3 linked regions of the Homo sapiens genome follow. The protein of the gene in region 3 interacts with the protein of the main gene of each other region in a pairwise test. Each region holds a gene or a part of one and is shown on either strand. Other genes may lie near its edges.

Region 1 (4,875 bases), on a different chromosome or scaffold from region 3:
TTGAAGAGTTACTTTCCAGCTGAGGTTTATTTAAAAGCAACATATCAAAGACAAAGAGAGCTGGTCACTGCAGCTGACAAAAGTCAGTGTATTTCTATCAAGGCAAAGAGGTTTTGAGAGATTTGCTATAGAATGTACTGCCACAAACCTCTAAAACTTCCAAAAGTAGGCTGATCCTCTGTAAACTAATTTCTGGCGCAGAAACCAGCCTGAGAAGTGGTTTATTACTGATCCAGCTGCGAGGCATTAGGAAGAGAGATTGCTGACAATCGTTTGTAGTAAAATATGCCACCACCACTATACAAGGTAAAAATTGGAGAGCTTTTGAAACTGCACACAGGCACTTCAAAGGTAATGGTGATTGGAAACACCTGCAAGAAATTTATCACTTTTATTAAGAAACAATGATGGTACAATTCAAGATAAACCCCAGATGTCTGATGAGTTGTTTCAGAAGGTAAAAAATAGCTCTCTATAAGAAATAATGGCAAAAAGACTCATTCAGTTTGGCAAAACATTTTATTCACAAAATCTCCCATTCCTCCTTAACTCTCTGCTCAAATAACTCTTAAGGCTGGAAGCCGATGTTTGATATTTACACAGCTCAAAATCTGAATACCCACTAATGTCTTGTAGCTGTTCTACGTACTCTCAGCTTTCTACTCCCTCCTCCCCCATCTTTGTTCTTAAAACCTAATGGTAATACTGTATGAAGAGCTCAGACGGGATGAATAAAATCCCCGCCGTCCCTCCCCACCACATAATTTGTTAGGAAATCCTACTTCTAAAATCATCATCTTTTTTTGGAGAATGAGGCCATTCTCTGGAATGAAAGCAACTGGCACAGAAATGACTGGCAATCGCAAGTGATACACAAAGGCATTTTTATTGCGCCGGGGAATAACCACTACTGCTCTCTTTGGTTCACAAGAGTCATCTATGCATTTCAAAAGATATCAGTAAGTCAATGTGCCAAAGAAATTATTACAACTTCTTTCTTAGAAAGTATCAGTATTTCTGCTTTTCTTTTTTCACGTATCTCTGGCTCCCTTGCAACTTGCCTCACTTGATTAAAATTGACAAATTTTGGTAGGACGGTTACCAATTTAAGTAGGTAAGGCTCAGGGGAGGTGTCTCAGTATGATACTGAGATCAGACCAACAGACAGTGATCTCCAGGCATCAGCTTCAGCTGCTACAAGCTAACTGTACCAACTATGGAGATGTAAGGGTGGGGCTGGTCACCCCAAGCAGCCTACTTCAAAAACTTTTAAGAATCTTTAATGTTCTATTAGGGATCTTCTTGCACTTTCTTCCTGAGCATCAAATATGTAAGGTGCTAACTACATAATACTCTTCCCTTCTACCACCAGGCAATCCAGAGCCAAAAGTGAGGTAGCAGGCTGCACACTGAGCAATCTCTGGTGTACCTCCTCCCAATAGTCGTTCTTCCTTCTCTTGCTTGGAATGTTAAAAATGTTTCCCCTTATTTGCTTTCTTGCCAACCCGCTGATGAGGAGTGGGAACAGGTATCACGAACCCTCAGGTTTTCCAGAAACTTGAGGGAAGAAGAGATCTTGGCAAGCATTCATTTATTCACATAACATAAGCCAGACACTATGCCAGGGGCTGGCGATACAGAAATGAGTAAGACATGATCCCTGGCCCCTCCCATCCCTGGAATGTCTACTAGGAAGAAGCTGCTAGAAAAAGACAACATGCTACTTTAAAGCCAAGAGGGGCCAGTCTCCCATTCCAGCTTGGTACACACTGAACACATTTGAGGCTTATGACTGGTTCTTTTACTTACAAATATTGTTTAGACACATTTTCAAATGTCACACCAATCAATAATAATAAGGAATGGATTTTATCTATATTGACAGTTCTTTCAACCTTAAGAGTGAACTGCTACAGGTAAGATTCAATCACATTTTTCAGGAGAAAGCTATTGAGACCAATATGCTTTGGTTATCTAATAAGGGTGGAATGACTTATAATGCTATTTACTCCAGGCAAAGAGAAAATACAACAGACATAGGATCTTGATTTCAACGTAGTTCTCCTCCATGTGCATTTCTCTGTCCGTTTAGGTCAATGCCAACTGGTCCACCAGTGAACATGTCCACCGGCCCTGAGCTAACTCATTGGTTTATTATTCCTGACCTAAGGTGTTTTACTTCCCCTCTCCATAGGTATCTGGCACTGTTGAGTGAAGCCAGTTAATGGGAAGGTAAAAATAGCAAAATAAGAGAGTATTGTTTCCCAAATAGAGAAGGGAATGGTGGTAGAGATTCTCAAATAGAGAAGGGAATGGTGGTAGAGATTCTCAGCCTCCATTTTGAGCTGTAACAGAATAAACAAACATTTCTACATTAACCCTTCACATTCATCGTCATCTACAGATATGGCATTCACACATTCTGCCAGATATTCTCACTATTATGAATGTACCCCCCAATATCAATGCTTGTAAGAATGTATAACAAAATACACGCTGTGCAGATATAAATACTCTGTAAAAATCCACAAAAACATCCAGGGGCCCCAAAGAAGAGAGGCATAAACAGATACAAGATGATAAGTCTTTCTTAGCAGAAAACGCTGCAAGTGAAGAAACTGGAGTGAAGAAAGTGGGGGAAGGAGTTCTGAAGTGAAACAGAGGAAAGCTGCTCAGGAGATGACTGCGGGATATTTATTAGAATCCTTGAAAAACATCACGCCATCTTTCCAGAAGAAGAGAAGAGGTTTACTCTGGGTGGCACAGACCAATTCAGCTTTCATGGTCTTCCTCCGTAGCACTGACCAAATCAAAATACTGCAGCGTTTCACTGTGGTTAACAGGATGGAAAGGAGGAAAAAACTAAAAACAAAGTATTTGGATTTGTCTAAATACTTTAGAACTTGATATAAATGTATCAAGTACATTACAGTTGTTTTAGTTGGACGAAAAAGAAAACAAAGAATCAAAAATAAATTACTAATAAACATGAAAAAGATAACATGTTTCTAATATGACAATAGAGTTTTGGCCAAAGATATGTAGACATTAAGCTAATACAATTCAAATATCCACCATCTTCAGTTACCTTATCTGTTACACTGTCAAGTTGTTCAGCAGGCACACAGGTGCACACACACACACTGTATTTTCTGGCTAGTGTCCTTTGCTATTTGATTTTTGCTCTAGCATAGAGTTTTGGATGTCTTAAAAACTAAACTCTTTGTAAACAAACAGTATCTTCATCTCTGAAGCATAAAATTACATGGTCTTGACCCAGAGAAAGAGGAGAGACATTTAATAGACATTTCTCTTCCAGTTAAGTAGGAGTCTGATCTTCTACAAAATAGTTTATTTGTCTTTTTAATAAAGGTTGAAAAAATGTCCACCCTGGATTAAAAAATCAGTTAACCAAGGGGAACGTATTTTTTTTTTAAAGAGTAGTTTTAAAAAGTATTAACTGGTGTCCATTAGACATATTTCCTTATATTCAGCTACTAGAGAAAAAACAGTTCCCAGGGAATTTGGGGCTTTCTGCTTCTATATGTGGTCATCTTGTGCGAGTGTTCTAATCTAATCTATTCCCTGCCCATACATAGCCTCCTATTCATAAGACTGGCTGAGGTATTCACGCTGAGATGAATACACATGCTCTAAGACCAGACGCGAAAACCTAATGGGCCCAAGTACTGTCTGTGAACATCAACACATACCCAATGAAGAAAACTTGTAATGTTTTCATCAACATAAAATGGGTGACATTATGTATGTGAGGCTGCATCCTATTAAGAGTTCAGAGACTCCAGATCCATAGCAATGAAGTCGCCTCTAGGGACAGGTTCTTCTATTAAGTGGTAAGAAAAAAGTAGCTTTTGTTGCTTTTAAAAGGTTATTTAACACTTGGATATTTCTAGCACCGTCAATTCTGAGGAACTCTACATATTTCAAAGCAAGTGGCTTTTGATCCTATGAATAGGTTCACTTCTAATTCAGCATCCTTCAGAAGAGCCCATTACTGGCTCTAGAAAGCTGTCAATGTCCAGAGCAACACATTATTACTCTGTAAACTCAGTGATTTAGGTGGAGAAATAATATCCACATTTTAAGTAACAAAAACCCGAGGCAGCTTAAATGACTTCTCCAAGCGACCTGGTGACTCTAGGACATTTATCTCCACTGCTGTTGCTCAAATCCATCAGAGAATAGCTCTGGACAGTGGAATAAACATACCACACCATGGAATGAGCCCAGGAGACCTGCAGAGCCACGTCTCAGTTTAAGAACACAATGTGTGCACCACACACACACACATACATACACACACACACACACAGTCTTTGTCTATAGGCAAACAGAGAAGTGGCCGGTGAGTTCAGCTGCTTACAGAGGAGCATGTACTGGTATGTAAGGTTCCAGCTAAGTAAAGAAAAGGGATGTGAAAGTGCAGCCACTTCCGTGCCCTTTGATCACACACAGACTACACAAGAGCACACAGAAGCTACGCATATTACAGCAACAGCGTTCCTCCTATTCAAGATTGTCCAGTGAAAGGAAAACTGGACCTCTGAAATGATTAGCAAAGAGAGGCATGTTTCCACACACAATAAAGCACATCCAACCATCCTCAATACCCATCGAGAATGCTAAGATACCTCATAGGACAATAACAACTTTCAATTGTCGTTGAGGTTTGACCTGATTTACACATCACACACTATATATCTCCATCTATGCATTCCCTTGATGGGTCGTGACTCTTAACAGAGTCATCGGGCAGAGGGGAATCTCCTGGTGGTGAAGCCTTATCCTCCCACTTGAGACCCACCCTTCTGCCCTGTGAGTGCCCGGCTGGGCCAACAGGGACAGCCATGGCTC
Region 2 (8,312 bases), on a different chromosome or scaffold from region 3:
AAAAAAAATTAGCTGGGCGCGGTGGCGGGCGCCTGTAGTCCCAGCTACTCGGGAGGCTGAGGCAGGAGAATGGCGTGAACCTGGGAGGCGGAGCTTGCAGTGAGCCAAGATCTCGCCACTGCACTCCAACCTGGGCGACAGAGCGAGACTCCGTCTCAAAACAAACAAACAAACAAAAAACATATATATATATAAATTAGCCAGGCATGGTGACATGCATCTGTAGTCCCAGCTACTCAGGAGGCTGAGGTGGGAGGATCACCTGAGCCTGGCGAGGTCGAGGCTGCAGTGACCTGTGATTGCACCACTGCACTCTAGCCCAGGCAACAGAGCAAGACTCTGTCTCAAAAACAAACAAATGAAATTTTTAAAAAATTAAATCAAATTAAAATTTTAAAGAGAGGCCAGGTTTGGTGACTCACACGTGAAATCCCAGCACTTTGGGAGGCCGAGGTGGGTGGATCATGAGGTCAAGAGATCCAGACCATCCTGGCCAACATGGTGAAACCCCATCTCTACTAAAAATATAAAAATTAGCTGGGCGTGGTGGTGCATGCATAGTCCCAGCTACTCGGGAGGCTGAGGCAGGAGAATTGCCTGAACCCGGGAGGTGGAGGTTGCAGTGAGCTGAGATCATGCCACTGTACTCCAGCCTGGTGATGGAGCGAGACTCCGTCTCAAAAAAATAAATAAATAGAAATAAAAAAAGAAGCGCGGCACAGTGGCTCACGCCTGTAATCCCAGCACTTTGGGAGGCCAAGTGGGTGCAGATCACTTGAGGTCAGGAGTTCGAGACCAGCCTGGCCAACATGGCGACACCCCATCTCTACTAAAAATACAAAAATTAGTCAAGTGTGGTGGCACACACCTGCAATTCTGGCTACTTGAGAGGCTGAGGCAGGAGAATTGCTGAGGCGGAGGTTGCAGTGAGCCGAGATTGCGCCATTGCACTCCAGCCTGGGTGACAGAGCAAGACTCCATCTAAAAAAAAAAAAAAAAAATTAGCTGGGCATGGTGGCGTGTGTCTGTAATCCCAGCTACTTGGGAGGCTGAGGCAGGAGAACTGCTTGAACCCAGGAGGCAGAGCTTGCAGTGAGCCGAGATAGCGCCACTGCACTCTAGCCTGGGCGACAGAGCAAGACTCTTATCTCAAAAAAAAAAAAAAAAAAAAAAAGAAAAAGAAAAAGTCCATACAAATGGAATAGAAAAATACTAAGACCTTAATAGTTAAATGGATACAGAACATGAATAAACAAAAGGGGGAAATATGAAGGGTGAACTAATGAGAAAAACAGTGCAACCTCACTAATAAACAAATCAAAATTAAAACAATGAGCCATCACTGCCTGCCTTTCAAACTAGCCCAGATGTCTGCATTCACCTCCTGGCTGGCCTCCTCCCTATGCTGTCTCACTCTCCCAGTCCACTCTGCACTGCAGAGTTCTAATACAAATCACGCTGTGTCACTTGCCTGCCTAATGGGCTCCTTGATGGTCACCAGGAGAAAGCCAAACTCTGCTGCCTGGCACATCTGCCAGCTTGCAGCCTGATGCCATTCTAGCCTCGCCTCCTGCCATGTCTCACTTAGTTCCAGCCAAATGGAACTTGTGTGATTGGTTCCACACCATGGTGCCTTCACTTATGCTATTACTGATCCCAGAAGCCCAACCTTTCTTCTCATCCTGTTCCTTCAGGAAGCCTTCCCTGACACCACCAGTCTCCTCTGGATGTCCTTCTTCATGTTCCGTCAAACTCTTTTTTTTTGAGACAGAGTCTCGCTCTGTTGCCCAGGCTGGGGTGCAGTGGCGCGATCTCGGCTCACTGCCATCTCTGCCTCCCGGGTTCAAGCGATTCTCCTGCCTCAGCCTCCAAGTAGCTGGAACTACAGGTGCACACCACGCCACCACACCCAGCTAATTTTTGTAATTTTAGTAGAGACAGGGTTTCACCATATTGGTCAGGCTGGTCTCGAGCTCCTGACCTCAGGTGATCTACCCGCCTTGGCCTCCCAAAGTGCTGGGATTACAGGCGTGAGCCACTGCGCCCGGCTGTCCCCGTCGAACTCTTTCTTCCCAGTGTCACAGCGCTGAGCACACGATAGCATGATCATTCATATTACTCGTCTTTCTCCTTCACTGGAATGTGAGCTCCTTAGGGAACTATGTCTTATTTATCTGTATAGCCCCAGCACTGTACCCAGAGCCAAGTATGTATGAATGTATGTATATATGTGTATGTATGAGCATATGAATGGATGGATGGATGGATGGATAGATGGATGGAGATACATGAGCAGGGCCACGAGTAAGCTGAAGTAAGAAACACCTGAGGATGGGACGGGGGAGGGTGGGTGCCTTACCTCCCGAAGGGCATTCTGGGCAGCACGGTACCAAGCCCAACTCACGAGGGAGGCCTCTTTCTGATCTGACAGAGGCAGGAAGCTCAGAATATATGTGAGCATCTGAGGGAAAAAGACAGGGCATTGGGGACTGTTAGAGGTGGGAGGTCTTTGGAACCCACTCCAGCTGACAGCACCATGGGTCTGAGGGCACCAGAGCCCTGGCTTCTACTTTATCTTGGATGTGAAGCTTCACGAAGCATTCACTTCCCCGCTCCAGGCTTCAGGTATCTTTCCTGTAAACAAACCTTTCCTGAGCTGGGTGCAGGCTTGCACTGACTGATAAGAATCAAACTTCCTGCCTAGCTGGGTAGAAAAAGCCTGGGCATTGAGGCCAGATAAACCTAGTTCAAATCTCTACTCTGCCAACTGACCTCTCGAACTTTGTTTTCCTTATCTGTGAAATTGCAATTGTAGTGAGATTTAAATGGATTATTGTGAGAATTAAAGAACACAGCCAAGTGTCTTGCATAGGACCTAGAGCACAGCAGGCCAGGTGTGCTCACTCTGGTCCTCAGGAAGTCATGCTTGGTCCTCCTGCCCTCATGGCTCAGGCTCTGGGACCCTGCTGTTTTTCTGTCTTCTTCACTGCCACCTTGCCCTCTCCACTGGTTGTTAAGATGCGCTCCCAGCAAGACCTAGCCTGGGAGGCTCAGGCCCTTCCCCCCACCTAGGGGGTGGTGAGGTTAGAGGTCCTAAATGGGACTGGGGAAGGGGTTACCAGTGAGGCCTAGAATGATTTGATATTAACTCTTCTTTTCTTCTGGAATCTTCCTCCCTGCATCCCAATTGTCTCGTTTTTGGATTCTTCTGTGGCTCCCAGGGCTCAGACCTGGGTCTTTTGGTTTTCTGTTTACCAACACAGGAATAACCAACAATTCAATATTCCCATATTGTCCTATTATCCAAGTGCTAGTCCATATTGCCAACTGTCCATGCAAATGTTTAGCCATCACTTTAATCTCAACCAAAACTCATGTTCTACCCTCAGCCCAAAACAGCCTCTCCTCCCAAATTCCCCTTTCAATGCCAACAGTGCATCTACCTGATAACACTTTCAACTATTCAAACCATTCTGTCCCTTCCTCCCAGATACAGGTGTAATGCACAGGCTTTAGGCCAGGCTAACCTAAACTCATTCAAATTCCAGCTCCACTACTTCCACATATACTGATGTGTGACCTTAAACAAGGTACTTGACCTCTGGGAGTTTCAGTTTCCATATCTATAAAATAGGGATACTTTAAAAAAATCTAGATCATAGCCTCATGGGGATTAAATTTTACATATATATAGTGTGTGTGTGACAACTAGATGTTCCATAAATGGTTGCTGGATTGCTGTTACTAAAATTTCTACCTCTGCAACTTCCCCACCTCAGTAGCTCAGATTTCTACCACCCCAAACCTGGATTCCTTCCACAATCTCCCACCTGAACTCTTTGCCTCCAAGTTCATCCTTGCTAATACATTATGCACACTGTCACAAGGTTAATTTTTCCTATAAAACAGTTTTCAGTTTCAGCTCACCCCTGCTGTAAAACTTCAGGGTTCACAGTACTCTCAGGACAGTCTCCACTCCTGGATCAGCACTGCCAGGCCTCTGTGCCTGATTGGACTCGCTGGTCCCCAAACTTCCCCAGTCCAGTCTCCCCATTGCCCTACGCACACAGCATGTCTATTTCCTTTTGCCTATGCGGGCCTTTTCCCTGGGATCCCCTTCTTGAAGCTTAACTTCACCAACCCATTGTGATCTCTCCTTCCTTTCTCAGATGCCAAGCACGCAGGCACAGTGCTCAGCCAGTGCTTACTGGATTAAATTAAGGTTGGACAGTCCAGTCCTCTACCTCTATTTTCACCAAGAGTATGCTCAGGGAAGGGGTCGGGGAAATAAAGCAGTCATTACTGAGAGGACAATGACTGGCAGAATAGACTTCTGGGCCAGGAAGGGAGGCATAGGGAAGACAGTATTGATGGGGACTGGGACTGACCAAGTCCCAATCCCTCCAGGGAGGCACGGAAGCCTGTTTGAGCTGAGTTAAGACAGTGGCCATCCTGTCTTCTGGGGCTAAGCAGCCAGCCCAAGAGCAAAGGGAGAGGGGAACAAACCTGTCATCCCTTGGGGTGAGTCGGGAAGGGACACAATTCATTGACCTAAGAAGAGGGTGGCCTTTCTAGAGGGACAAGAGGAGGCAGTGATGAGGATGGAGTGACCATCCCATGAGTCCCATCTCAAGGGGGCTACTGGAGATAATGATTGGTCACTCATGGGGTCTATGGGGATGGAAATAGATAGCCCCTAAAGCTAAGGGGGAAAGGGATAGCACTGCAAGCTCAATAGGGGTGGGAACAGGCCTATTTTTGCTAAGGACAGGAGCATCATTCCAGGACCGATGGGAAAGGGTGGCCTGTTTCCCATGGGCAGAGAGAGGGGGCTGCCAACCCTCAGGACAAAAGAGATGGAGAAGCCATTCCAACAGGCCACTGAAGACAAAACCTGTTATCTCCCTGGCAGATGGGGCAGAGTGGTCTTGCCCCTGGCTAAGGGGAAGGAGCAAACATCCCACGGAGTGAAAGAGGTAAGGGCGGCCATCACTAGGGGCCTAGGAATGGGGAACAGGCCTATCCTTGTTAAAGGAACTCAGAGATCATTGCAGTTGATGGGGAGGGAGCAGTCTGTTTCCCACTGCCAGGGAGAAGGGGCGGCCGTCTCTGTAGGAAATGGAGAGATCATCCCAAGGGACCAATGGGGATAAGATCAGTTACCCTTCGGGACGATGAGATGGAGCGGACATCTTCCAGAACTGAGCGGGGAGGAGACAGCCACTTCAAGGGAAGGGGATGGGCAGAGGGCCTGTTCTCGCGGAGATGACAGGGCAGCTATCTTCTGGGGCCGATAGGGAAGGGGAGGACGGTCCCCCAAGCTAAAGGGACAGAGTGGCCCAAAGGAGGAACCGTTACCCAGAGCTAGAAGGTCCCGGGATCGGGAGGGCGGGTCGTTTCCGCCAGGCTGGAGGGGCCGGGCTAGCTATCTGACAGCCCCTCCCCAAAGCTCAGGACCGCGAGGGCGGGGCCTGTCCAGAGCTAGGCCTGAGGGCGGCTTCCTCTCACCTCCAGGGGCAGCGACTCCGCCATCGCATCCCTGCCGCCTCCGCCCCCACTGCGCAAGGCTTTCTGGGAAATGTAGTCTCGCCTCTTTGGGGCGGGGCTTGGGAAGGAAGTGAGACCTATTTCCGTCGCAAAAGCTGACGACTTCGGTCTGCGCCGGAAGTGCATGAGCTGCCGATGTGGTGCTTAGTGATTGCGGTTTCGGTCGCTCTCCCGTGTTTCCCGGGCTGGGTATTTGCCTCGCACCATGGCGGTAAGGAGGATGGATAGGGCGGGGTCCGCACCAGCAAAGCTCTCCAGGGGCTGTGAGAGTGAAAACTGAGAAAGAACATTAAGGGATATGGGGTGGGCCAGAGCGGGGCGCCATCCCTGGCCAGACCGTGCTAGAGCTGGGCTGGGGGGATGGCGGCGCAGGACCATACCAGGACTAGTGCCAGAGCGGGGTGGGCATCAGTACCAGGGCAGGCCAGAGATCTAAGTGACCTGAGGTGGGGGTTAACCCAGATCGGGACTACGCCAGCGGAGGCCTGAGAGAGGCACCATTCAACTCCGCTCAGGAGTACCCTTGGAAGAGTCGTTAGCCTAAAGCCAGACTACCACGGGATCCAGAGGCGGTATTAGCTTAGGATTGAATTGTTCCAGGGCGAGCAAGAGGCGATTGATCCTAGCTGCGGGTGCTGGAGAGATGGCGTCAGCCCTAGGCAGAATGGACTGGAGGATGGGTGGACATCCCAGGGATTTTGCTAGGTTTCTGCACTACGGGGACCTGGCTGAGTTGCGGATGGAGCTCTATAGCTCACCAGGCTGGTGGGGAGAATGAGGAGGACCGTGGCCTCCTGACGGCATCTCATCATTCCTCTGCAGCCCAAGGGCAAAGTGGGCACGAGAGGGAAGAAGCAGATATTTGAAGAGAACAGAGAGACTCTGAAGTTCTACCTGCGGATCATACTGGGGGCCAATGTAAGTGCCTACCTCCTTGCTTCTATGCCCACTTATAGTCAGTTCCCTAGTCCTCAGCCCTGCTTGGTGACGAGGAGTGGTACCCGAAAAAGCTCTAGAAGAGAGCTCCAGTCAAAAAGAAATGAGAGATCTGGGCACAGAGAAAGTGCTAACTAGTAAAACACAAAGAAAATGAAGGCGTGAGTCGTAGCTGAATTTGAGAGCTCTTCCTACCTCCAAGTACACAAAGGCTTCTTTCCTGGGCTGAGTTGGGTGTCAGAGGAGAGTGGGTATTTGGGATTCAGGGAGCAGGGCCCTTTCTTCAACCCTGTAAGAACAACCTTGCTCCTCCCACAGCCTGGCCTAATTCTTGGTCAGAGTTGAGGGAGACCCATGGTTTGGAGGTAACTTCTGACCCCAACCTGATCCTGTGATTGCTTGCAGGCCATTTACTGCCTTGTGACGTTGGTCTTCTTTTACTCATCTGCCTCATTTTGGGCCTGGGTAAGTATCTCCATCCTGGGAGGTGGATGAGTGCGTAGGGTCAGTGGCTGGCCTTTGATACCCTCATTCTTGCTCTGCAGTTGGCCCTGGGCTTTAGTCTGGCAGTGTATGGGGCCAGCTACCACTCTATGAGCTCGATGGCACGAGCAGCGTTCTCTGAGGATGGGGCCCTGATGGATGGTGGCATGGACCTCAACATGGAGCAGGGCATGGCAGAGTGAGTGTCCCCCACCGCCAGCCCAGGTGAGCGGCCCCAGGGCTGGGGCCCAGATAGCCCAAGAAGCACAGCTACTTGTAACTTGAAAAGGGTGGAAGGGAGTTGCAACTTGAAAAGGGTGGAAGGGCCCATATGCTGTCTTTCCAGCTTTATTTCTATCCACAGGCACCTTAAGGATGTGATCCTACTGACAGCCATCGTGCAGGTGCTCAGCTGCTTCTCTCTCTATGTCTGGTCCTTCTGGCTTCTGGTATGTGGGCTGGGGGCGCTCCCAAGAAGGGGCATCTAACCCTCCCCATCTTTTATTCCCTGCATCTTGCTTCAAGTTACCGTTTCTCTTGTAGGCTCCAGGCCGGGCCCTTTACCTCCTGTGGGTGAATGTGCTGGGCCCCTGGTTCACTGCAGACAGTGGCACCCCAGCACCAGAGCACAATGAGAAACGGCAGCGCCGACAGGAGCGGCGGCAGATGAAGCGGTTATAGCCATTGACATTGTGGCCACAGGCCACTGGCCCTGGGTGGCTCTGTCAGGGTGCACAGCCCCTCATGCCTGGAGCAATGAGGGTCTAGTCCAGGGGCCAAAAGCAGTCTGAGGTATTGGGTATACTTATACTCTATAGGGTCGTTGAATAAATGGCTTAGAATGTGGCTGATGGCTGTGTGGGTGATGAGGGATGAGGCAGGAAAAGCTGGTCCTATGGGATTTCCCTCCTGCTACAAACCCAGCCTGGTGGGGACCCTGAAAGAAGAGAAACCTGTTGGATTAGCTAAGAAAATTTTATTTTGCTCCGTGCGTTCAAGGAGCTCACACACATGCACATGCATATGCATGCACACACACACATACACACACACTCACATGCATACACACACGGCTAATACTGCTCAAGGCATGGCTCCTGGGCACAGAGTTCTGGGGCCAGAATTCTGCTCTGGGCCCTCCTCACTCTGTCATCTCCTGCACTGCAGTCCAGGGTCCAGATAGATTTCCGGGATACAGCACCTTCACACCTCCAGGCCAGGACCCTTGCTTAGTCCCAGTGCCTGCACCAGGTCATCTCCGAGCCCACTCTTCAACGTCCTTCTCACTGCAGGGACAGAGCAGGGTTGGAGGGGGTTGATGGGGTTCAGGTGGGCAGTGGGATTGT
Region 3 (8,487 bases):
ACTTATATTTCATGTGAACCAGATTAAAAACTAACCAAAAAGAAAATACTAAAGGTAAACATTTTCGAGTGTATTTTTGCAGAGTAGGCCACAGATAAAGAAATAGCAAGGTCCCTGGGGTAGTCAAATTCAAAGAGACAGAAAGGAGAATGAGTGGTGCCAGGGGCTGGAGGACAGGGGACGGGGAGTTGTTGAATGAGTGGAGTTTCAGTATTGAAAGATGAAAAGAGTTCTGGAGACTGGTTGAACATCAATTCAAATGTACTTAACACTACTGAACTATGTATTTAAAAACAGTTAGGGCTGAGCATGGTGACTCATACCTGTGATCGCAGCACTTTAGGAAGCTGAGGCGGGTGGATCATTTGAGTTTGAGACCAGCCTGGCCAACATGGCGAACCCCCCGTCTCTACTAAAAATGCAAAAATTAGCTGGGCGTGGTGGTTCACCCCTGTAATCCCAGCTACTTGGGAGGCTGAGGCAGGAGAATTGCTTAAGCCCAGGAGGTGGAGGTTGCAGTGAGCTGAGATCACGCCACTGCACTCCAGCCTGGGCCACAGAGTAAGACTCTGTCTCAATAAATAAATAAATAAATAAATAAATAAACAAACAAACAAACAAATAAATAAGGGTTAGGATGGCAAATTTTATGCAATGTGTGTTTTACCACAATTAATTTTTTTAAAAAGTTTAAACAAGAAGTAGCAAACTATAATGAAGAAATATGTAAAAAAAAAAAAAAAAAGAAGCAAAAATATGAACAGTACAGGATCGATGTGTTCCCTGGGAGAAGATAGAGACAAAAAAGAAGGGCGTGGCCTCAGCTCCACTCTGTGCTCAGGGTGAGACCCAGGCTTCCCTCTCCCCTGACCTCCTCTCTCTGGCCACTGCATCCTCTGTGCTCTGGCCACTGGGCCTTTCTCTGCCCCTCCGGCATGTCCAGTGTGTTTCCATACTGAGGCCTCTGAGCCTTCTGTTCCCTGTGCCTGATGCTGTTTCCTCAGATTGTCACACAACCAATATTTCTGGAGCGTGTACTGTGCGCCAGGCACCCTGCTAGGCATTTTGAAGCACTCAAGTGAGCTGCCTTCCTGGAGCTGCTGTTCTAGCAGACAGTAAGCAAAACCAAGCAGGGTGAGGGGGACTAAGAGTGGCAAGGGGTGTGTAGCAATTTTATTTATTTATTTATTTGAGATCAGGTCTCGCTTTATCACCCAGGCTGGAGTGCAGTGGTGCAATCCTGGCTCACTGCAGCTTCGGCCTGCCTGGTTCAAGTGATCCTCCCACCTCGGCCTCCCGAGTAGCTGGGACTACAGGTGCCTGCTACTGCACCCAGCTAATTTTTGTATTTTCGGTAGAGACAGGTTTTCACCATGTTGACCAGGCTGGTCTCAAACTCCTGACCTTAAGTGATCCTCCCGCTTTGGCCTCCCAAAGTGCTGGGATTGTAGGCGTGAGCCACCATGCCTGGCCTGTGGGTAGGAATCATTAGGCTCAGCAGCATGAACAAAGTGACATTTGAGAAAAGATGGGAATGAGGCAAAGAAGTTAGTTGTGCAAACATCTGGTGGAACCACTCCAGGCAGATGGAACAGCCAACCCCAAGCCATAGGGCAGGACCTGCTGGTGTAACGGGCCCAGAGTTCAAGTCAACAATCAGACTTAATGACATAATTAAAGGTGCTCAACTTCATGAGTCATCAGGAAAATGCAAATTAAAACCACAATATGGCACCTCTACAATGCACCAGAGCAGGGAAAATGGAATAAACATCACTGACACTGACAAGGACAAGGAATAAGTGTAGTTTCATCCCCTGCTGGATATAAACTAGTACAACCACCATAGGAAACTCTTTGGCAGTGTCTACCAAAGCTGAACACAGGGCCATCCTATGCCCTGGCGATTCCATGCCCAGGTATATGCCCAAGAGAATGGCATTCATATGTTCCCCAGAAGACACACACAAGAATGTTCACAGCAGCACCATTTATCAGAGTCAAAAATGGAGTCTGGACATGGTGGCTCACACCTGTAATCCCAGCACTTTGGCTGGTGGAGGCGGGAGGATTGCTCGAGGTCAGAAGTTTGAGACCAGCCTGGGCAAGATAGCGAGACCTCATCTCTACAAAGGATTTTAAAAAATTAGCTGGGTGTGGTGGCATGTGCTTGTAGCCCCAGCTACTCAGGAGGTTGAGGTGGGAGGATCACTTGAGCCTGGGAGGTCGAGGCTGCAGTGAGCTATGATTGTGCCACTGTACTCCGACCTGGGTGATAAAGTGACATCCTACCTCTAGAAAAAACAAACTGAAAAAGCTTGGTCCCTCCATTTCAAATACTGAGATTTCATAGATGAAACTACTTCAGAAGTCTATTGAACCCTCCTCTATCAAGGCAATCACATTTTCATTCAGCTTCTGGGGGGGAAATGCCTACTACAAATGCCATCCGTGATTGAATGGAAGCAAATCATTTTGGGGACAATTCTGATTTTAGTGGCAAGGAGGTATCTGAGCTAAGAGCTGCCGGGAGGACTCTCACCCATGAGAAAACCAGCCCTCCAGGTCATTCCTATACTTCACTGTCAAATCTCCCTTTGCCTGTTCCGGCAGCTTTATTCATAATAGACAAAGATTGGAAACATCCCAAACCCCCTTCAGCAGGAGACCGATATACACATTGTGTGTGGTATGTGCCTATCACGCAATAGGACTCAGTGCTTCGAACAGGGCGGGAGGTGGGAGGACAAGCGAGGATGAGCGTGGAGTCCTCACATGGCAGAAAGGCAGAGGATCAAGCCAGCCCACTCCTGCAAGCCCTTTCTACGGCATCCCAAATACATTCATGACTCAAATACCCCCACAAAGGCCCCACCTCCCAACACTGTTGCAATAAAGATTACATTTCCAATGCTTGAATTTAGGGGGACACTAACTACCACATTTCTTGCTAACATACACATCTCTTTAGGGAAGGTCTTTGGACATCACTTTTTTTTTTAAGACAGGATCTTGTTCTGTTACCCAGTCTGGGGTGCAGTGGTGCGATCACAGCTCACTGCAGCCTCAAACTCCTGGGCTCAGTTGATCCTCCCATCTCAGCCTCCCAAGCACCTGGGACTACAGGTGTGCATCACCACGCCCAGCTATTGTTTGTATTTTTTTTTTTTTGTAGAGACAGGGTTTTGTCATGTTGCCCAGGCTGGTTGGACATCATATTTTGAGCACATTTCTGGCTGTTTTTAAGATTACATTCCTAGGAATGTTGGTGAATTGATGGGGGACAAAAACATTTGTTTCCCCTTGAGAGGCAATGGTACAGGGGAGGGGTTAAGAGCATAGACCCTAGGATCACATTGCCTAGGGTTGAATACTAGCTCTGCCACTTACTGGCTACAAGACCCTGGACAAGTCACTTCCTCTCTGTCTCTGTAAATGAGCATAATAGCAGCACCTGCCTCAGGGGGTTGTTGAATAGGTTCAATGAGCTAATATATAAGAAACACATGGTATATGCTATAAAGTGTTGTCTTCTTTTCCTTCTCCTCCTCCGCTCCCTGGGATTATTACCATAATGATACAATTATCATTTGTTCTTTCTGTAAAATGGAGTTTGATGTTGGAGCTGCTTCCTAGGCAGTCAGGCAGGGCAGTCACTGAGAATGAGGACGGCGTTTCTGACTCAGCTGTGGGCGGGCAGCTGCAGTGACACAGCTGAGTCTTGGCAAACACTTTTCATGTACGAAGCCTGACCCTGGAGTCTTGAGGCTGAACTTTTCACCAACAAACAGGAATGCATTCATGAATGTTACCTCTGGGTGCTGTCCTCTGGAAGCCATCTGCATAGCCTAACTCTGCCACCCTGGCTTGGACAATTATGGTGATTTCTCTGATGCCCCTGATACTACCACCTCAATCTGAATTTAGCAGCTCCCTTCACATATGGTTAGATTGCCTTTAAAGAGATTTTTTTTTTTTTTAGAGATGGGGTCTCACTATGTTGCCCAGGCTGGTCTTGAACTTGTGGGTGGGCTCAAGCAATCCTCCCACCTCAGCCTCCCAAAGTGCTGGGACCACAGGTGTGAGTCACTGCACCCGGCCTAGATGTCCTTTTTCAAACGTAAGCAATCATGCTCAGGTTTAGGATTATTCGTGCCTGGGTCCCCCTCCCATACTGAATTGCTATGGACAGCCAGCTAGTCTTCATCCTGCACCCCCCAGCCCCTGTGCAGCGTTAATGAGCCAGAAACGCTGATTCTGCTGCTGAGTTCCGTGGAACCCCCTGGGGCATTTTCCTGACTACCCCCAGTGTGGCCAATCCGTGTCCACTGAGGATGAATGTGACTCCAGGAAAATACATGAAGTAACTCTGTGCCAAGCTTGGTGAATGAATTGAGCCATGCCAATTCTGTGCTATAAATAAATTTACAAGACTGGTTTTCTTGCGTGGCTCATAAGCCAGGTCTAGCTGCCACTCCCCCAGAAGTCTTCCAAAAAGTATTTTGAGCAGGACCTTTAGACTGGGGTGTTGGAGTCCCAAGGCCAAGGCCGACCGCGCTGCTCTGGGCCCAGCGGGCGTTCCCACACGGGGCTGTAATGCCACGATTGGCCGCAGGAGGGGGGCCGTATTCCAGACCCCATTGCAGAAGCCTCCGCAACTGCTCCAAGAACTTTATTTTATACGGACTGGCGGCGAGAGCAGCTGCAGTTCGCATCTCAGGCAGTACCTAGAGGAGCTGCCGGTGCCTCCTCAGAACATCTCCTGATCGCTACCCAGGACCAGGCACCAAGGACAGGGAGTCCCAGGCGCACACCCCCCATTCTGGGTCCCCCAGGCCCAGACCCCCACTCTGCCACAGGTTGCATCTTGACCTGGTCCTCCTGCAGAAGTGGCCCCTGTGGTCCTGCTCTGAGACTCGTCCCTGGGCGCCCCTGCAGCCCCTTTCTATGACTCCATCTGGATTTGGCTGGCTGTGGGGACGCGGTCCGAGGGGCGGCCTGGCTCTCAGCGTGGTGGCAGCCAGCTCTCTGGCCACCATGGCAAATGCTGAGATCTGAGGGGACAAGGCTCTACAGCCTCAGCCAGGGGCACTCAGGTGAGTCTTGGTACTAATTTTGTCCTATCTCCTGGGCATGCTGTCTCAAAGACAGCTGGAGGAGACTGGAGTGAACTGGATGGAGAGGAGTACAGAGTTTGGGAAACTTCAGACCTAGAGCCTGGAGGTGCCTTCTCCAGGTGGGAAGGTCCCCGCCTGCTGGGCCCGCAGATATCTGCCGGGCCCTCATCCAACTGCCTGGGCTGGAGAGAATGTGAGCCTGCATTTGGGGTGCCAGAGGGAAGCTATTGCCTTGGTGGCTACTCCACCTGACTCATGTCACAGCTCAAGAGCCTACTCAGGGTGCAGATGGCTCAGGTGACAGCTCCTCTCCATGGCTTCGTGTGTGTGCATGTGTGTGTGTGCATGTGTGTGTGTGCATGTGTGTGTGTGTGCATGTGTGTGTGTGTGCATGTCTGTGCGTGTGCATGTGCCAGTGGTGGGATATATGTGGGGAGAGGTTATTTCTAAAATATCTGTCTCTGTCCAGCTTTGGGTTATGATTTAGCTTAACTAAGTACAGTTAGAGGAGGAAAACATTTAAAACCTCCTTAGTGATTCTCTCTTTGGAGAAGGGCCACACTCATGTGATTTTTTTCCTTGGTTTTGATGAGTTTAAAGTGAGGTAATCCAAAGAAAAGCCATAAACCCTGCAGAGTTAGATGCGGGTACCCAGAGAAACTGACTTGGTAGCAGCAAATGAGGCTCGTGCTACCCACTCAGAGGAGGAATTAATGGAGTCCTTCTGATCTCCAGAGAAGGATTGAAGAGCCAGGGTCCTGATATCAGCCCTAGAGTGCATTCGCGATTGCCTTTTACAAAGGGAACTTCAAACAGCTTTGTTTCTGAGACTGGCTAGGTAGGAGGGAGGCCTTGGGAACCTGGACACCCCCTTACCTGGCTGCCAGGCAGAGTCAGAAGATGCTGGGGGATGCTTTTTCTCATCAGACTGCCACCAGCTCCCCTGAGTGACCTTGTTCATAAAGTCATGCCACATGCATTATCTCACGGGAGGCTCACAGTGATCCTGGGTGACCAGCAGCTACCCACCTTCCCATCTTAGAGGTCATGTACCTGAGGCTGAATGAGGTCAGGTAATTGAGCCAAGTTCCCCCAAGAAACCAATACGCAGAGGAGCTAGGATGGGAGCCCTTGGCTTCTGTGTTCCCTGCATTCCTGCAGAGAGCCAGGCCTGCAGGGCGCAGATGGCCCCAGGGCACAGGGCTGCAGGGCACAGATGGCTGAGGGCTTTTCCAGCTCTAAAATGCAGAATCTAGAAGCAGATCCCTGGCTCTGAACCTGCCCTTCTAAGTGCCTTGGGTGAAATTGTCTGGAAGTAAATCATGATTGCCAAGAGGTTAGTGGAGAGGGTGACACCTCCCTGTTAGAGCAAGACCTCCCTCTTTGAGTTGCAAGTTGAGGTCCAGTCTCCTTGGGCTTCATCCACAGGTCACTGTGGCTTCCACATCTCGCCCATGTGCTTCAAGCTCTCAGAGCCCTGCCTCAGTCCCAGGATCCCCACCTGCTGGAGTACACTGGCTGGCAGTCTGAGGTGGGATTCTCTTCTCTGCCTGATCTGGGGCCCAGAAAGTGGTCACCAAAGGGGCTGACATGCAATTCCCAAACAAAGCAACCCTGCAGCTGAGCCAGTGCCCTGTGTAGGAAAACTGTGCCCGGGGCCTCTTCCCGCTCTGATATCCATTCCTTCCTTTGCCTCTTTGGTCTGGGATGGCTTATGTTTAAAATGGGAGGGACGGAATGCAAATGCCATCAGCCTACCCCCAACACAGTGCTCCTGGGAGGAGCACTTGCCATCAGTTTCATCTTCTAGAGCACAGACTTGGTCCAAAGACAGTAAGATCCATGATCTGAGGGTCCCAATGCCTGCTTCCTCCCCCAAGAAAGAAAAACAGCCCCCAAGAAACCTTGGGCAGACAGAACATGCGTAGGTTTCAATTCCAAGTAACAAACATGAGTAGAGTTGTCTGAGCTTTTCCAAGCCCTGTGCACTCACATCTGGCCCCGCTCGGCCCCAGTCCCTCTCCCCAGCAGATCCCCTGGGCTCCTGCTGGACCAGCTGAGGGGTGGGGAGGAGGAAGGAGACAGCTGCCCTTCACACACATTCTGGCTAACAAGCCGTGCATTCCAGCCCCGTCCCAGGAGCTGACCAGAAGAGGAGGAAGGTGGAAATGGCAGTGGGGCCTCACACCTCCACTCCCCAGGGGCAGCGCCCTGTCTGGCTCTGTGTGGCCTCTGGGAAGCAGAGGCTATTGCCTTTGGCAGAGGGAGGGTTATTGCAGGCAAAAGAGACATTGGCCTCCTGCTTCACAGCCCCGCAAGGAGTGAAGCCAGAGGGAGGGCTGCCGCACACAGTGCTCATGAAATGAGGGAGGGTCCCTTGCAACTTAGCAGTGCTGGAGCTGCCCGCGGCCCCACCTAGAGGCCCTGCCTGGGTGGAGGCATTGGGTGGAGGGCCGGAATTGGGAGCCCAGTGAACTGGACACCACTGCAGCACAGGGAAGCCAGAGTGGGTGGTGTCTGGGGCAGGGAGGAGAGATCCTGGCAGAGCCGAGGACCACCCCCTGTTCCATCCCTCCCATAGGCTGGAGGAGAGGCCCGCAGATACTGGGAGCCCCAAGGCTGTGTGTGTGCACATGCGTGTGTGTGCCCGTTATGGGGGATGTACAGAAGGGCTAACAGCAGAGGCGTCCAGCCCTCCTGGGTCATTAGAAGGACATGTATACAGTGACTGGTCAGTTCTGGTCTCTTCTCAGCCCAAATGTCAGAGGTCTGTGGAGGCCAAGCTCAAGTCATGAAAATAGGGGCTTCAGCTGGGTGCAGTGGCTCACACCTGTAATCTCAGCACTTTGGGAGGCTGAGGCCAGTGGAGCGCTTGACTCCAGGAGTTCCAGACCAGCCTGGCCAACATGGTGAAACCCCATCTCTGCAAAAAATTAGCTGGACATGGTGGCTTGTGCCTGTAATCCCAGCTACTCAGGAGGATGAGTTGGGAGGATCACTTGAGCCCGGGAGGCGGAGGTTGCAGTGAGCCAAGACTGCACCACTGCCATCCAGCCTGGGCAACAGAGTGAGACCCTGTCTCAAAAAAAAAAAAAAAAAAAAAAAAGAAAGAAAGAAACAGAAAAAAAAAAAGAAGAAAGAAAATACGGAATTCTTGTTTTGCTCTGCTGCAGAGCAACCCCGCCAGCCGCCTTCCCTGATTATGTCTATTTATGAAAGTTGCCACGCCTCCTTGCCCACCCTCCCTCTGAAGAGAAACTGATTGACTGATCTCTCAATCAACAGGCATTGTCCCCCCACTGCCACCTGCCAGCCCTGCATCCTCTCCTCCCAGCCTCCTCTGGGTTGAAGGGTTGAGTTTGCTCCATAC

Evidence for each region. The genes of interacting proteins can lie anywhere in the genome.
Region 1: the proteins of SCARA5 (region 3) and SLC35B4 interact in binary tests that used the Homo sapiens proteins (3 or more experiments, as listed by UniProt).
Region 2: the proteins of SCARA5 (region 3) and TMEM208 interact in binary tests that used the Homo sapiens proteins (3 or more experiments, as listed by UniProt).

The regions. Positions count from the first base shown.
Region 1 is NC_000007.14:134,288,832-134,293,706, forward strand, and holds the end of SLC35B4 (nucleotide sugar transporter SLC35B4), read right to left. Parts: 3' UTR 501-4,875; downstream 1-500. UniProt on the Homo sapiens protein: Antiporter that transports nucleotide sugars across the endoplasmic reticulum (ER) membrane in exchange for another nucleotide sugar.
Region 2 is NC_000016.10:67,221,467-67,229,778, forward strand, and holds TMEM208 (transmembrane protein 208), read left to right. Parts: upstream 1-5,663; 5' UTR 5,664-5,752; coding exon 5,753-5,758; intron 5,759-6,252; exon of another isoform or gene 6,253-6,369; coding exon 6,370-6,465; intron 6,466-6,888; coding exon 6,889-6,948; intron 6,949-7,028; coding exon 7,029-7,165; exon of another isoform or gene 7,166-7,191; intron 7,192-7,330; coding exon 7,331-7,415; intron 7,416-7,509; coding exon 7,510-7,647; 3' UTR 7,648-7,812; downstream 7,813-8,312. Other genes in the region: FHOD1 (FH1/FH2 domain-containing protein 1), read right to left, coding at 8,170-8,252. UniProt on the Homo sapiens protein: May function as a negative regulator of endoplasmic reticulum-stress induced autophagy.
Region 3 is NC_000008.11:27,988,866-27,997,352, reverse strand, and holds the start of SCARA5 (scavenger receptor class A member 5), read left to right. Parts: upstream 1-4,679; 5' UTR 4,680-5,096; intron 5,097-8,487. UniProt on the Homo sapiens protein: Ferritin receptor that mediates non-transferrin-dependent delivery of iron. Mediates cellular uptake of ferritin-bound iron by stimulating ferritin endocytosis from the cell surface with consequent iron delivery within the cell.